Homo sapiens: one gene and its partner. The protein of the gene in region 2 binds, or shares a complex with, the protein of the main gene of each other region. Each region holds a gene or a part of one and is shown on either strand. Other genes may lie near its edges.

Evidence for each region.
Region 1: the proteins of MUL1 (region 2) and UBE2D2 are in contact, whole or in part, in a crystal structure (PDB 6M2C), measured with the Homo sapiens proteins. Residues at the interface, in NP_078820.2 of Homo sapiens: Val303, Val304, Cys305, Leu306, Cys326, Ala329, Leu330, Pro331, Pro337, Ile338, Arg340; in NP_003330.1 of Homo sapiens: Met1, Arg5, Lys8, Glu9, Asp12, Phe62, Ser91, Gln92, Trp93, Ser94, Pro95, Ala96.

Annotation. Positions count from the first base shown.
Region 1 is NC_000005.10:139,567,591-139,571,612, reverse strand, and holds part of UBE2D2 (ubiquitin-conjugating enzyme E2 D2), read right to left. Parts: intron 1-4,022.
Region 2 is NC_000001.11:20,505,352-20,509,444, forward strand, and holds the start of MUL1 (mitochondrial ubiquitin ligase activator of NFKB 1), read right to left. Parts: upstream 2,801-4,093; 5' UTR 2,674-2,800; coding exon 2,554-2,673; exon of another isoform or gene 2,176-2,553; coding exon of another isoform or gene 2,173-2,175; intron 1-2,172. UniProt on the Homo sapiens protein: Exhibits weak E3 ubiquitin-protein ligase activity. E3 ubiquitin ligases accept ubiquitin from an E2 ubiquitin-conjugating enzyme in the form of a thioester and then directly transfer the ubiquitin to targeted substrates.

The DNA of each region.
Region 1 (4,022 bases), on a different chromosome or scaffold from region 2:
GTCAAGATCGCCTGTATCTGAATCCTAGTTCTTCCTACCATAACCATATAATGTTAGGCAAGTTTATTTCTCCCACTGTTTCCTTATCTAACCTGGGGAGAACAGAATTATTGAAAGATTATTGAAAAGATCAAGTAATTCCTGATGCACAGTGAGTACTCTAAAGTGGATAGCTGAAATCTGTGTTTGTTTTTTTTTTTTTTTTTGAGAGGGAGTCTTGCTCTGTCGCCCAGACTAGAGTACAGTGGCACGACCTCGGCACACTGCAACCTCCGCCTCTTGGGTTCAAGTGATTCTCCTGCCTCAGCCTCCCAAGTAGCTGGGATTACAGGTGCCCACCACTGTGCCTGGCTAATTTTTGTATTTTTAGTAGAGATGGGGTTTCACCATGTTGGCCAGGATGGTCTCGATCTCCTGACCTCACGATCCACCCGCCTCGGCCTCCCAAAGTGCTGGGATTACAGGCATGAGCCACCGCGCCCAGCCGATCTGTTGTTTTAATACCTTGAAGGAAATCCCTAACAACTCACACGTAAGATTTATATTTTCTCTGCAGAACAGGTACTCTGTTCATCTGCTGAGATTAAAATAATGTTTAAGGTGGAAGGACAGTGGTTTTTAGTCTTTTTAGAGATTAAAAACCCATTTGAGGCTGCTCTGCCTAGGGAGTAGCCATTCTTTATTCCTTTACTTTCCTAATAAACTTGCTTTCACTTAAAAAACAAAATCCATTTGACTCTGATGAAAGATATATGCAGAAAGCCGGGGGTGGTGGCTCATGCCTGTAATCCCAACACTTTGGGAGGCCAAGGCAGGTGGATCACTTGAGGTCAGGAGTTCCAAACCAGCCGAGGTGGGTGGATCACGAGGTCAGGAGATCGAGACCATCCTGGCTAACATAGTGAGACCCCATCTCTACTAAAAATACAAAAAATTAGCTGGGCATCATGGCACGCGCCTGTAGTCTCAGCTACTCTGGAGGCTGAAGCTGGAGAATTGCTTGAACTCAGGAGGCAGAGGTTGCAGTGAGCCGAGATCACACAACTGCACTCCAGCCTGGGCGTCAGAGCTAGACTCCATCTCAAATAAAAACAAAAAACAAAAATTAGCCGGGCGTGGTGGCATGCACCTGTGGTCCCAGCAACTTGGGAGGCTGAGGCAGGAGAATCTCTTGAACCTGGGAGGCAGAGGTTGCGGTGAGCCGAGATTGCACAACTGCACTTCAGCCTGGGCGACAGAGGTAGAGACTCCGTTTCGGGGGAAAAAAAGGCGGGGTGGTGGTGGTGGTGAGAATAGAACACCAAATTTGCAATAGTTGTTTTGTTGTTGTTGTTGTTGTTTTGACACAGAATCTGGCTCTGCTGCCCAGGCTGGAGTGCAGTGGTATGATCACAGCTCACCGTAGCCTTAACCTTTCATCCAGGCTCAAGTGATCCTCCTGTCTCAGCCTCCTGAGTAGCTAGGACTACAGGCACACATCACCATGCCCAGCTAATTTTGTTTCACTTTGTTTCGCTTTTGTAGAGACAGGGTCTCCCATTACAGACCAAGCTGGTCTTGAACTCCTAGGTACAAGCAATCCTCCCACCTTGGCCTCCCAGTGTTGGGATTACAGGCATGAGCCACTGTGTCAAGCCTAAATTTGCAGTTTCAAGCAGTATGAGCAACCTTGCCAATCATATAAAGGGAAGTTGAGGAAGATCTTCAGGTTCCAGGACACAGTTTAAATATCCAATTGTTTGAACAAAAGAAAAAAGGCTGCATCCTCTGGATTTATATACCTAACAGCTATGTAAGGATAACACATGGCTTGCCAGAAAATACACTGGACAGTCCAGAAATCCAGGTTCTCAATTCAGACCTACTCTTACCTGGTAGGTCACACGGCCTTTCCAGACAGCAGCCCTGAGATGTGCTGCAGTGCTAACATTTTATGATTCTATTACCCAAAATCTCACTTGACTCTGCAGACAGAAGAACAAACACTACTTTATTTCCCTATATTATAGTTTAACATGATTTTGAAGGTTTGCCTGGAAATCTAACCATCAAAACTTTATTTCTACAGACAAAACAAGTGTGTTTCTGCATTTCTGGGATGAGGCTGCAAAGGTTCCTGGTAGCATGAGGCATGAGTCAGATACTCCTATCCTGGGAACTGCCTAGGATATTTTAAGAGAAATATACAGAATTGGACCTTGTCAAAACCTCTTCCTTGTCAGTCATCAGTACAGTAATATACACTGGGAGACTTCAGAGAAAACCTAGATTTATTAACAGTTATCCTCGATGGCTGTTTGAATTATATTTAAATAACAATCTAGTAGAGCCAAAGAAAGTGCCTTAATTCAATGATCTTTTGTAAAGGAAATAAAAAATACTTTTTTAGTGGGGAAAAAAAAATTCCCAGAACTTATGTGAAGAAGCTCACCTTTTGGAGTAAGAAGGTATCCAAGATAGAACTATCCAAGATAGAACTAATTTAAATAGCCATATTCAGACAACCATTTATTAAAGTTCCCAATACTCCACAGGACTACCTGTTAATTCATCATTTTGATAGGAATTCAATCAGTCCTTACCTCTAATATTAATCTAATATATGGTACCACACCTCTAGTACAGTATTTTTTTTTCTTTTTTGAGACGGAGTCTTGCTCTGTTGCCCAAGCTGGACTGCAGTGGTGCGATCTCAGCTCACCACAACCTCCACCTCCCGGGTTCAAGCAACTCTCTGCCTTAGCCTCCCCAGTAACTGGGATCACAGGTGCTCACCACCATGCCCGGCTAATTTTTATATTTTTAGTAGAGACAGGGTTTCACCATCTTGACTAGGCTGGTATTGAACTCCTGACCTCGTGATCCACTCACCTCGGCATCCCAAAATGCTGGGATTACAGGCGTGAGTCACCGCGCCCGGCCTACAGTATTTTTTATTTTCATTTTTTTCTTTTTCTAGACAGAGTTTCGCTCTGTCGCCCAGGCTAGAATGCAGCGGCGCGATCTCCACTTACTGCAAGCTCTGCCTCCCGGTTCACGCCATTCTCCTGCCTCAGTCTCCCGAATAGCTGGGACTACAGGCACCTGCCACCACACTGACTAATTTTTTGTATTTTTAGTAGAGATGGGGTTTCACCGTGTTAGCCAGGATGGTCTCGATTTCCTGACCTTGTGATCCACCTGTCTTGGCCTCCCAAAGTGCTGGGATTACAGGCATGAGCCACAGCGCCCAGCCCGGCCTACAGTATTTTTAAGCAATTTTTTTTTTTTTGAGATGGAGTCTCGCTGTTGCAAAGGCTGGAGTGCAGTGGCGAGATCTTGGCTCACTGCAACCTCTGCCTCCCAGGTTCAAGCAACTCTCCTGCCTCAGCCTCCTGAGTAGCTGGGATTACAGGTGAGTGCCACCACACCTGGCTAATTTTTGTATTTTTAGTAGAGACAGGGTTTCACCATATTGGGCAGGCTGGTCTCGAACTCCTGACCTCAGGTGGTCGGCCCGCCTCAGCCTCCCAAAGTACTGGGGGATTACAGGCATAAGCCACCGCACCCAGCCTAAGCAATTTTTTAAAATACAGTACTGTTCAGCGTTACAACTACTTTCTTTAAGATCATGCTTCGGTAACTTCCCAATCTCAGACATTTTCAAAGTGTATTGTCAGTCTACAGAGAAACTCAAAACATGAAACAGATCATAATGGAAGAGTAATACATAAACTTCTACGGGATCAATGTATTTACAAAACTGGTTTTCCCAAGACCTCACACAAAACCATACAAAAGGCGGGGCACAGTGGCTCACGCCTGTAATCCCAGCACTTTGGGAGGTCGAGGCGGGTGGATCACTGGAGGTCAGGAGTTTGAGACCAGCTTGGCCAACATGGTGAAACCCCGTCTCTACTGAAAATACAAAAAGTAGCTGGGCATGGGGGTGCATGCCTGTAGTCCCAGCTACTCGGGAGACTGAGGCAGGAGAATGGCGTGAACCCAGGAGGCAGAGCTTGCAGTGAGCCGAGATTGTGCCA
Region 2 (4,093 bases):
AAGTGGGATAGCTGCTTGAGGCCAGCAGTGCAAAACTAGCATGAGCAACATGCAAGACCCCATCTCTATGAAAAATAAAAAATTAGCTGGAGGTGGTGGTGTGCACCTGTAGTCCTAGCTACTTAGGAGGCTGAGGCAGGAGACTGGCATGGGCCTGGGAGCTCGAGGCTGCAATGAGCTATGTTTGTGCCACTGCACTCCAGCCTGGGCAACAGAGTAAGACCATGTCTCAAAAAAAAAAAAAAAAAAAAAAAAGAAGAGGAAAAAGAAAAAAAGAAAGAAGAAAGAAATGAAGGACAGGAAGGAAGGCCAAAGAGAAAGAAAAGGAAGGAAGGGAGGGAGAAAGAGAGGAAGGAAATAGAAAATAGAATCTAAAATATTAACAGTCCCAACTTTTTTTCCAGGAAGGGGCTATTTCATCCTCATTTAGGAACTGTTTGGCAAAGGTTTTAAGGTCACCCAAAGATGAGACCTAAAGAGTTCACTGCTTCAAAGAAGCCCTCCTCCAGCCAACTTGAGGCCAAAGTGGTTTGGAGTCAGAAAGTGAAGTATCAGATACACAGAGCTAATCACTTCAGGATTAACTTGATTATTTAATCAGGAGAAATACAGGGCAGCTGGAATCTCACTATAACGCCACTGCACAGCAAATCCAATTGCCTCATAACTTGGTTCTTTCCAGATTCCAAAACTCCCTTCATGGCAGGGACTGGAGTTCACACATTGGTTTCTTTTTTTTCTGAGATGGAGTCCTGCTCTTGTCACCCAGGCTGGAGTAGCCTGGCCCACACATTAGTTTCTAAACCCTTACTGAAAACAATCTGATAATTAAGTTAGTCAGGTTTAGGAATCCATCTTTCATATAAACATCAAATTAGGTTAGGCCCTTAGCTCTTGTATTGTGAAACTTCAGCCAAAAAGAACCCACAAACATTTACTGAGCATCTACCACTTGCCAAGTACTGTGTTAGAAGCTAGAGGAAAGAGAATGGATGAATAAGACCCTGTCTCTGACCTAAAGAGGTCCATCTCTCTGGACCAGTCAGATAGTCACAATAAAGCAATGTCAATCAGATTAAAATCCTACCCTTGGAATCAAAAGACCTAAATTTAAGTTTCAAGCTGACTAGCTGTATGGCCTTTCCTCCAAATCTCAATTTTCTGATTTGCAATGTGGTGGTAACTGTCATTTTATTTACTTCAAAAAATTATTGTGGGCCAGGCGCAGTGGCTCACGCCTGTAATCCCAGCACTTTGGGAGGCTGAGACAGAGGGATCACCTGAAGTCAGGAGTTGGAGACCAGCCTGGCCAACATGGCAAAACCCCATCTCTACTAAAAATACAAAAATTAGCCAGGCGTGGTGGCAGGTACCTGTAATCCCAGCTACTCCGGAGGCTGAGGCAGGAAAATCACTTGAACGCGGGAGGCAGAGGTTGCAGTGAGCCAAGATCGTGCCATTGCACTCCAGCCTGGGCAACAGAGCGAGACTCCGTCTCAAAAAAAAAAAGAAAAAGAAAAAGAAAAGAAAAGGAGAGGAAAGAAAGGAAAAAAAATTATTGTTAAGAAAAAAATAAAATCAAGATGAAAATGTGGCTGGGCGCAGTGGCTCACGCCTTTACATCCCAACGCTTCGGAGAGCCGAGGCGGGGAGATCACCCGACGTCAGGAGCTGGAGACCAGCCTGGCCAACATGGTGAAACCCTGTGTCTACTAAAATACAAAAAAGTTAGCTGGGCGTGGTAATCCCAGCTACTCGGGAGGCTGAAGCAGGAGAATCACTTGAACCCGGGAGGCAGGGGCTGCAGTGAGCCCAGATCCCGCCACTGCACTCCAGCCTGGGCGACACAGCAAGACTCCATCTCGAAAAAATAAAAAATAAAAATAAATGCAAATGTGTTGTGTAAACCGTAAAGCACAGTTCAGAAAAAAGCGCCATTTATAAAAATAGTTGTAATATAAAAAGGAAGCGTCTGTAAAGCAAGGAGTGGAGTGGTTCAGTAAATGGATGTCTGCACTTGCTGTTCCTTCCATCTCCCGCTAGATATCTGCATGACTCCCCTCATCTCCTCCTAGGCTCTGCTCAAATGTCACCTTATTTAAGATAGGAGATCCCCCTTTCTCCAGCATTCCATGTCCTCTCTCCCCTACCTTACTCTAAAGCATTGCTCACCATCTGTTACACCGCCTGATTTACATGTTTGCTGTCTAGTCGTACTAAAATGGTATCTCCACGAGGGGATGGACTTTCATCTGTTCGACTCACTGCCTGGAGCATCGCAGGTGTTCAATAAATATTTTTCGAGTAAAGTAATGAAGTCAAGATTCATTCTGAGTCATAAGAGGGACTTGGGAGAAAAGGAGCGGAGCAGCCGTTATCCCGAGCCCGAATCCTGCCCCTCGCTCCTCCATCTACTGGCTGGATGACACCCTTCAGAGGCTGTTTCCTTTTTTGGACAGTTTCCGACGGTGGGGCGGCCAAGGTGAATCATGGGCTCCCCAGCACCTGGGACAGAGATGACCCGGCTGAGGCCAGGCCGGCTCCAGCACTGACCTTGAGCTCTTGGGAGACCCGGGCCTTCTGCCGGTACACGGAGTACAGGGCGGCGGTGACCACAGAGGTGGTGCCCAGGAGGATGAACTGGCACAGCGAGGGCCGCCCTCCGCTCTCCATGACGGCGGCGAGCCCCGGTGGCCGACTGTGGCGCCAAGGATAGGCCTGGTGACCCCCGACTCTCCACCTCCTTCCGACCAGGACCGCACCCCCCCGGCCTAACCTGACCGGAAACTCGAAATCAGTCGCCCAGCGATGACGCACGACGCCGGAACCGGAAGCGGGGCAAGGGGTTGTAGAGGGAACCGGAAGGTGGGGTTGCCCGGGTGACAATCAAGCTGCTGCGGCCTCCAGGGAGGTCCTGTCTCCCCAGCCGGGTGTCGGAGAGCGATTGGGGAGCTGAGCGACCACCCACCGCTCCATGGCCGTCCCCTTCGAAACACGGCGCACTGGCCATGACTGACTCGCCCATCGCCCTGGTTTCCGTCCCTCTGGTTTCCTGGGGTTACTGGGCTGTTTGATGGGTTATTCCATGTCTTCGCCATTAGATTGGCAGGAAATAAAATAATTGTGTATTAAACTCTTATGAGTAATATACGTTTAAGTTTCAGAGCAAACTCTCAAGACTTGGAATTTATTCTGGCCACTTTACAGATGAGAAAAGTGAGGCCATAGAGGTTAGGGAATGATGTGCTCGAAGTCTAGTGAGTGCTAGAGAGGAATTCACCCAACTCCAAAGCCCTCAACTCTACCCCAGGAGGGCAGATTATATCACCAAAGTAGCCCCTTAATCTGCCATCACCACATAGAACAACATATTTATTAAATAATAATTACGGCTACGCTTAGTGCCTATTATGTGTCAGGTTCGAGGCGGGGGAGGTTTTGCAGGCACCATCCCACTGAACCTTCACAACACAGCTATAATGCAGATTACCGATAAAGAAACTGAGGCTCAGGTAAGTAACTTGCTCAAGGTTATACAGCTAAAAGCAATAGGTATGGCCATAAAACCCAGGGGATCCTTCTCAGAGACTGTTCCCTGATCTCTGTAATGCATCTCCTTTCTAAAATAATCGGAGATAACCCAAATCTTTCTTCTAAACATCAGCATTCATTGAGCTATCTCCTACAGGTTATGCTTTAATTTTTTTATTTGTTTGAGACAGGGTCTTGCTCTGTCGCCCAGGCTGGAGTGCAGTGGTGCAATCATAGCTCCCTGCAGCCTCCCACCCCGCAATCCTCCCACCTCAGCCTCCCCAGTAGTTAGGACTAAAGATGCATGCCACCCCCGGCTAATTTTTTAAAAAATTTTTTGTAGAGTCAAGGTCTCACTATGTTGGCCATGCTGGTCTGGAACTCCTGGGCTCAAGTGATCCTCCTGACTTGCCTTCCCAAAGTGCTGGGATTACAGGCGTGAGTCACCACACCAAGCCTAAATTCTTGTATTTTCATGTTTACATGTATAAGTATTTATGTAGGGAGAATTTCTAGAGGTAGAATTGCTAGGTCAATGGGTGTTGGCACCATTAATCTTGAT